3 separate regions of the Homo sapiens genome follow, and regions 1 and 2 are each linked to region 3. Evidence: fine-mapped expression QTL. A gene starts in region 3. Each other region holds a variant in brackets. All regions are shown on one strand. Distances are between the middles of the regions. Region 1 overlaps DMTN (dematin actin binding protein). Region 2 overlaps SLC39A14 (solute carrier family 39 member 14). Region 3 holds the start of DMTN (dematin actin binding protein).

Region 1 (2,653 bases), 23 kb before region 3:
GAGGCCCCAGATCTTCCCCCAGGCAGGAGAGTGCCCGTGGACAGCCCCGCACCCATCCAGGGCATCTTCCTTGCCTACCTCAAGCCGCATCCGATCCACCCCCGGTGGCAGCTTGGTTCGCCCCTTGTTGGTCACCACTAGCATTTCATAGGGATAGATCTGGGGGTGGGGGGAGGGGCAATCTTAGGCTCACAGAATATCCTGTCCTTCGACTCCCTAGGCCTCCCACATCAACCTGCAGAGGCCACTGGGGTTCATGCCATCTTGCCCTCTGTCTCCCCCAACTTCCCTGCCATCCCTCCCATCTTCAACACCAGGAAGACCCCGCAGCACATTCCACTTGCCTGGCATCTCCCCAGCCTCCCGCCCCGCTACAGGCGCTTGTGTCCCCTGCCCCTCACCTTCTGCTCCAGCACACAGGGCAGGGAGTTCCCCCGGTCCATCCTCCCCCTCTGGCCCTCTCCGTTCTGGGGAGACCAAAGCCGCAGTGAGCCAGAGCGGGGCAGGGAGACCTTCCCAGCCTTACCCCGGCTTCTTCTTCTTCACCAGGCAACTCTGTGGCCCCACACCCCCCTTCCCCTGACACTTTCGGGTGCCAGGACCCAGCTTCTGCTGCTCTGCCTGTTCCCCTCCAGGAGGCACTCACCTGCAGGCCTGCGGGAGAGAAGGGGCATGGGTCAGATGCAGCTCTGAGGTCAGCAGGCCAACACGCCTGACCTCACCAGACCCCTGCCCACAGCCCAGACCCCGGCTGCCCAGGGACCTGTGTAAGCCCCTTCTCCAGACCCCGGCACCAGGCCCCACTTCTCACCTGGGCTTCCAGTCTCACTCCCTGATGGGCTGAACTCTGTGGACTGTAGCTAGAAAGGACACAAAGGAATCAGAGGCAGTCGGGGATATTCACCTTTGGTCCCCTTCACTTTGGGGGTCTCCCCGCTCCCTGAGGGTGCCCAAGTGGCTCAGTCCCTCAGCACCCCACATGCACGTTCCTCCCACGTAGTCTATATCTCTGGTCCTGAGACCTTACCCGGCTCAGGGTGGTCCTGCCATAGGCGGGGAGAGAGGAAGATTTAGACGTTCCCTGGTGCAAGGCTGGAAGACAGCAAAAGGTCCTG[A/G]GTTCAGTCCCTTTGGCCCTGACAGCCCTTCCTGAGACAGCAACCTCACTGGCCTTCCACAGCTGGGGCAGGGCAGGAAGGGATCACGCTGGGGGGAACCTGGTGGGCTTCTGCTAGCTCCCAGCTCCTACTGGTCACCTTCAGCAAGCAATACAGTGCTGGTGGTTCTCAGCTGTCTCTACCACCATCCCTCTTCTCTCCAGCTAGAAGTGGCCCAAATATACAACTGGGCCCAATGCCTGATGTGAAAATTGAGTCAGCCAGAGCCAAGGCTCACATCATAAAATGAACCTCTGGGATACACAAAGAAAACTAAAATCGAATCACAATAATTACATTATTATAATTTTATTAACAATGTTAGTAATCAAATCTAAAAAAAAAAAATTTTTTTTTTGGCCAGGAGTGGTGGCTCATGCCTGTAATCCCAGCACTTTGGGAGGCCAAGGTGGACAGATCACCTGAGGTTGGGAGTTCAAGACCAGCCTAACCAACATGGAGAAACCCTGTCTCTATTAAAAAATACACCGTGCCCGGCCAAAAATTTTTAATAGAGATAGGGTCTCACTATGTTGCCCAGGCTGAACCTGAACTCCTGGACTTAAGTGATCCTCCTGCCTTTGCCTCCCAAGTACTGGAGCTACAGGCATGGGCCACCTGCTCAGCTAGTATTCATATTTGTTTGTTTGTTTATTTATTTATTTTTGAGATGGGGTCTCCGTGTGTCATCCAGGCTGAAGTGCAGTGGTGTGATTATAGCTTTCTGTAGCCTCAACCTCCCAGGCTCAAGTGATTCTCCCCATCTCAGCCTCCTCAGTAGCTGGGACTAGGGGCATGCGCCATCAAACCCAGCTAATATATATATATATATATATATATTTATTTATTTATTTATTTATTTTTATTTTTTGTAGAAACCAGGCCTCACTATGGTACCCAGGCTGGTCTTGAACTCCTGGGCTCAAGCAATCCTCCCACCTTGGCTTCCCAAAGTGCTGAGATTATAGGTGTGAGCCACTATGCTTGGCCTAGTAATCAAATTTTAAAAGTCTGACATTAGGCTGGGCACAGTGGCTCACACCTGTGATCCCAGCATTCTGGGAGGCCGAGGTGGGTGGATCACGAGGTCAAGAAATCAAGACCATCCTGGCTAACATGGTGAAACCCCGTCTCGACTAAAAATACAAAACAAATTAGCCGGGCGTGGTAGCAGGCACCTGTAGTCCCAGCTACTTGGGAGGCTGAGGCAGGAGAATGGCGTGAACCTGGGAGGCGGACCTTGCAGTGAGCGGAGATCACGCCACTGCACTCCAGCCTGGGTGATAGAGCGAGACTCCATCTCAAAAAAAAAAAAAAAACAGTCTGACATTATACTACAGAAAGAGTCATGTTCTAAGCACTGTCACTGGGGATTGTACCAGCAGTCAACAACTTCACATCAGCATTACTGGACCTCAGTCTCAACTTGCACATTTAATAGGATCTCTAAATTCTGAAGTACTACAGATTATAATTCAGGAAAATTTGTTTCCAGTAAT
Region 2 (2,666 bases), 360 kb before region 3:
ACACAGCAGTGGTTCGACTTCCTCTCCCATTCAGGATGAACCTTGCCTCACCTCTCACCCTGCTCATGTGTTCTGACTTCAGGTTCTCTTTGAGAGAAGTAATAGGCAATTAAACAGACTTTGAAAAAATGGGAAGGCTTCCTGTCTCCTGTCTCTTCTATTGGCCAGCTGGAGGTCCAAGGTGCCCAGCTAGAGTCATGGGCCCCACACTATGGATTCAACTCTTGATATTTCTAGCCAAGTTATAACCATTGGCTCTATTTTTGCATTGTTGGGTAAAGGATTCAAAACCTTTCAGCACTGGTTCCAAGAGGAGGCCAAGGTAATCAGAGAAAAAAGTCAGGCTTGTCTTGTAAGCTGCATTCAGGTTCCAGAGTCACTGAGAGAAAAGGAGGTGAGGAGAGGGCAAGAGGCACTAGCTAGAGACTGGTTACCAGGGCAGCTTATTCCTAGGATACAGCATTTTACAAACGGCTGACATTTGAATGCAGGAATACAGTCTGTGTCAGTTTTTCATAGAACGGCCTCTTCCGTGGTGCATTGTGGATGGTAAGTCCTCGGGCTGGCGATCGGGCAGCCCAGGGCCCGACTTCCAGTCCCACAGGCTCTTGGCAGAGCCCTACCCAATCTGGATCTGTCCTGAATACATGGTGAGGACCACCATGATGGTGAATCCAGTCAGGAGGCCCAGGTTCTGGATGATAAATGGAATCAAGATGCTGCCCTTCCTTTCATCCTCTTGACAGACCTCATTCATCTCAGGGAACTGGGAAAGAAGCAAGAAACAACACAGCTGCAATTCCTTCTTCATCTTGTAAGTCCAGGGCAATTCAGTGATGGAGATATAGATCAGGTTGGTTGACAAAGAAAATTATCAGGGCCAGGTGCAGCGGCTCACTAGAGGTCAGGAGTTCGAGACCAGCCTGACCAACATGGTGAAACCCTGTCTCTACTAAAAACATAAAAATTAGCTGGGCGTGGTGGCGCAGGCCTGTAGTCCCAGCTACTTGGGAGGCTGAGGCAGGAGAATTGCTTGAACCCGGAAGGCAAGGCTGCAGTGAATGGAGATCACACCACTGCACTCCCGCCTGGGCAACAGAGCGAGACTCCATCTCCAAAACAAAACAAAACAAAAAAAGAAAATTAACAATAGCAGGTACCATGTCTTTACAACTGTCTAGGTAAAACAAAGTACTCAACGTGTATGTGGCTCTGGATGAGTTTAGAGGCTGGCTAAAAATAAATGTACTCTGATAAAAAATAAACTTTATATTATAGACTTTTTTTTTTCCTTTTTTCCACTCGCTCTTGCCCAGGCTCGAGTGCAGTGGTGCGAACATAGCTCACTGCAGCCTCAAACTCCTGGGCTCGAGCAATTGTCCCACTTCAGCCTCCTGAGTAGCTCCACAGGTGCCTGCCACCATGCCTGGCCTTA[T/C]TATGGACTTTAAACACTTTAAGAGGTCTTTTTGTTATCAAGATATTATTAACAAGCTAGATGCAGTGGCTCACACCTATAATCCCAGCACTTTGAGAGGCTGAGATGGGAGGATCCCTTGAGGCCACAAGTTCAAGACCAGCCTAGGCAGCATAGAGACCCCATTCTATAAAAATTCAAAAAATTAGCTGGGCATGGTGGCTGGAGCCTGTAGTCCTAGCTGCTTGGGAGACTGAGGGAGGAGGATCACTTAAGCTCCGGAGTTCAAGGTTGCAGTGACCTATGATCACACACTGCACTCCAGGCTAGGTGAGTGAGGTTCTGTCTAAAAAAAAAAAATTAAAGAAAAAGACACACCCAATGCATTGAGATAAAAAAAGAAACAAACCAAAGTATTGCTATTATTGTTTTAGGGGTAGTATGATGTATGATTATGCGTAATTTTCTTTCCTTTCTTCTGTCTCTTATCTATATACAGCCATTCCATAATAATTAATAAAGACCATAGATAAATTATAATCATTTTCTTTAATGACATATGCTAACAAAAACATAAACTTTTCCTCCTTTAAAATCTAATGCCCCCTTAAAAACCGCTGAATGGTAGGTACACCTTAAACAGACGAACTCTGTGGTATGTGAAAGAAAGCTAAGGAAGATGTTATTAAAAACAAACTACCAGCCATGTGCGGTGGTTCATGCCTGTAATCTCAGCACTTTGGGATGCCGAGGCGGGTGGATCACCTGAGGCCGGGAGTTCGAGACTAGCCTGGCCAATATGGGGAAACCCCATCTCTACTAAAAATACAAAAATTAGCCAGGCGTGGTGGCACACGTCTGTAATCCCAGCTACTCAGGAGGCTGAGGCAGGCGAATCACTTGAACCCGGGACGCGGAGGTTGCAGTGAGCTGAGATCATGCCACTGCACTCCAGCCTGGGAGACAGAGTGAGACTCCATCTCAAAAAAATAAAAATAAAAAAAAACTACCTACCTAACATCCATCCCCTTAGCCGCCCTCTCATCCAGTGAACTGTGGAACACTTACCATATCAGCCAGAGAAATATACAAGAACATTCCTCCAGCTAGCGCAAAAATCCAGTTGGCAGAGAAGTGGCTGCCGGCCAGGATGCCAAAGGCCAGACCCAGGTAGCAGCAGCAGGCAGAAAGGAAGTTGAAGAAGAGAGCTTGTTGGATGCTCATCCCAGCGTTGAGCAGGATGACAAAGTCT
Region 3 (2,673 bases):
GGCACAGGCAGAAGCGCCCGCGCTGAAACCGTTGCAGGACGCATGCACGCGGGGAGACTCCGAAGCCCTGTGTGCCAGCTCATGCCCCCACTCTCCCATCGAGGCCCCCTCACTGTGACACATGGTGCTGCCAACACCCGCTCACACCCACCCACCGGTCCTCTCCCTGGCATCCATCCCAGAGTAGTGCACGTGTACAGCAACATACACAGAGCCCTCCACTTACCCAGCTCTGGAGGCCTTCCCTGGGCTCCCCATTCCCACAGCCCAACTGCCTTCCTTGTCTTGGACCTGTCCCTGCTCCCCTGACTCTCACAACCAGGCAACTGGTCCCTGGAAGGGACACACTGGGTGTGTCTGCCCAAGAAAGGGGGCTGGACCTGCTAGGCCCTGAGGGACAGAGCTAGGGAGGGGGAGCCCCAGAACCCTGTGGGGGCTGCATGTCTGCTCAGCCCTGGCCCCTTCAAGCACCCCAGCGGCGGGCACAGGGGGAGTACTGGGCTTGGGCTTGCAGCTGCGCCCTGCCACAGCCTCACTCTTCACTCAGCCCCACCCCAGCCTGGCCAGCCACTGGCTGGGGGCAGGCTCTCCTCCCACTCCCCCTAAAAAGCAGGCTCCAAACAAACAGCCTCAGGCCCCTAAATGTACTGCTCCAACCCCCAGAGCATGTGGAGTGGTTTTGGGGAGGCCAGCGGGCCAGTATTCAGCAGAGAGGGAATGCTCCCCTGCCCACCCCGTGCCCCCACAGTCCATCCCTTCCATTGCTGGCCTGCTCAGCTAGGTAGGCCAGGCAGAGATGCTGGCAAAGAGGGGATTGGGCTGGGAGCAGTTCTCATCCTTGGGATGAGAACACCCCAGGCCCTCTTCCCCAGATCAGAAGGTTCCATTAGATCAGGCCCAGCTGGTCCCAGGGGCCGGCCCATCCTCCCACTGAACAGGGCCCACAGTGGGCTCCCCCCAGATACCCTGCTGCCACCCAAAGCCTGGCTCGCCAGCAAGCGCTGTGGCCCAGAGTGCCCACAGAGGGGAGGAGAGGCGGAGACCCTGCCACCTACCTCTTCCCAGACAGTGTGGCCCAGACGCTCTGAGGCCACAGAGGCCCGAGAGGCGTAGGCCAGATCCACGGGCTGTCACTTCCCCCAGGAGCCTAGGTAATAGGTGTCTCTTCCAGGAACCCCGCGGCGCTTCCCCGGAGCACAAATAACAGGAAAAATGCCGGCTTAGGGTGGGTGGGCGGGGTGGGAGCTGGCGAAGGAGGGGAGCTGGTCTCGGCTGAGCGGTCTGATCTCCCCTCTGGGCCCCCACCCTCCTTGCCCCCACCCTGCTTCTCTGCAACGCACGGCCGCCTGGATCCCCCGGTGCTGGGGAGTCCTCGTCTGGGGGCGGGAGGGCGGGCGGGCTGCTGGCTCCCCCACGCCCTCCCCGCGCCCTCCCCACTTCCAGCTGATAGCGTGTGGCTGGCAAGGGTGTGTGTGTGGATGTGCGCGCTCTTCCACCAGCGCTGCAGCTCAATCCATTTCAAACAAGAGGAGCATTAACCCAGCGTCATGACAAAGCAGAATCAGCCAGCACTGTCCTCTCCCTTTCCCACACCGCAGTCTGCAGCACTCACACGCACACACACACCCACACGCACCCAGAGCCCCTCAGCCTCCTCCTAAACAGCCAGAGTTCAAGTTGCTGTGGGCGGTGGGTCGAGGGAGGGGGCTACTGATGACCCAGGCGGACAATGCCTGCTTTCTCCAGGCACCTGCACCTCCTACCCTATTCATGACCACCCCACCATCTGACAGCAGCAACTGAGGCCTCTGGGGCCCAGCCTCTTGAGGTGGGGGTGCAGGCACAGGCCAGAATTGGTTACCCAAGGATGAGCTCTCTCCTGGGAGGGTAGAATGGAGGGATGCAACCAGGTCCTCAGTACTGAGACTTGAGCTGGCCCCTCAGTAACCTGAATCCCCTGGGAACTCCAATGGGATGCAGCAGAGAGAGAGAAGGACCCCATCTCTCCCTAGGGTGGCTTCATGAAAAAGGAGCTTCCTGCCTGGTAACCCCTGGGTCCCAGCACAGAATTTACAGGCATGTGCCTTCCCTGTCTCTAGCAAAGCCTCAACCACCCCAGGAGCCTCTCATTGGCCTTTCGGGCCCCCTGGGCAGGATGGGGAAGGACAACAAGCCTTGCCCTCGACCCTCGCCCTGGCCCCAATGTCCTCTCCACCTCCACACCGCAGACTTGCCTACCTAGGCAGCCCTCACCGTTGCCCTGGCAACCCTGCCCCCAGCCGGTCAGCTGATGGTATCAGCTGTTGTTGGGGAAATCTAGAATCTGGGGAGGGGGCTCTGGGGTGTCTGAATGGAGAAGCACAGGGGGAGGGGCTTGAGGGAAGAGGCCAGGAGGGGACAGAAAGTATCTGGCTGGTGGGGACAGAGAGGACAGTAACCTGAGGGATGGGCTCCAGAGAGAAGGGAGGAAGGAAGGAGGCAGGTGGCTGAGAAGGGAGACAGAACACAGGCTGAGCTGCTGCAGCCAGGCGGGGGTGGCTGTGAAGGTAGAGAAAACCTGGGGGTGGGGGATGAAGCATCAGATCCATGGAACTGCAGAGAAAAAGGCCAGGAGAGTGATGTGGGAGGGGGCATACCTTCAATGTGGCAGAAAGGGGCACAGCCTTGGAGGAG

Evidence for each region.
Region 1: its variant is fine-mapped to the expression of DMTN in nasal epithelium (TOPMed, PIP 0.95).
Region 2: its variant is fine-mapped to the expression of DMTN in prostate (GTEx, PIP 0.97).

Annotation. Positions count from the first base shown.
Region 1 is chr8:22,078,619-22,081,271 of GRCh38, reverse strand. It overlaps DMTN (dematin actin binding protein), which reads right to left. Exons shown (of 16, transcript NM_001387751.1): 11 at 1,028-1,092; 12 at 812-860; 13 at 647-654; 14 at 402-467; 15 at 79-159. Among named protein-coding and RNA genes, the nearest start is that of FHIP2B, 9.2 kb to the left of the region's middle. The variant A/G (reference allele first, on the strand shown) is at 1,116.
Region 2 is chr8:22,417,652-22,420,317 of GRCh38, reverse strand. It overlaps SLC39A14 (solute carrier family 39 member 14), which reads right to left. Exons shown (of 9, transcript NM_001128431.4): 8 at 2,483-2,666; 9 at 1-766. The coding sequence ends at 620. Among named protein-coding and RNA genes, the nearest start is that of PPP3CC, 22 kb to the left of the region's middle. The variant T/C (reference allele first, on the strand shown) is at 1,436.
Region 3 is chr8:22,055,519-22,058,191 of GRCh38, reverse strand. DMTN (dematin actin binding protein) reads right to left here and starts at 1,378. Exons shown (of 16, transcript NM_001387751.1): 1 at 1,056-1,378. RefSeq lists an enhancer at 1-260.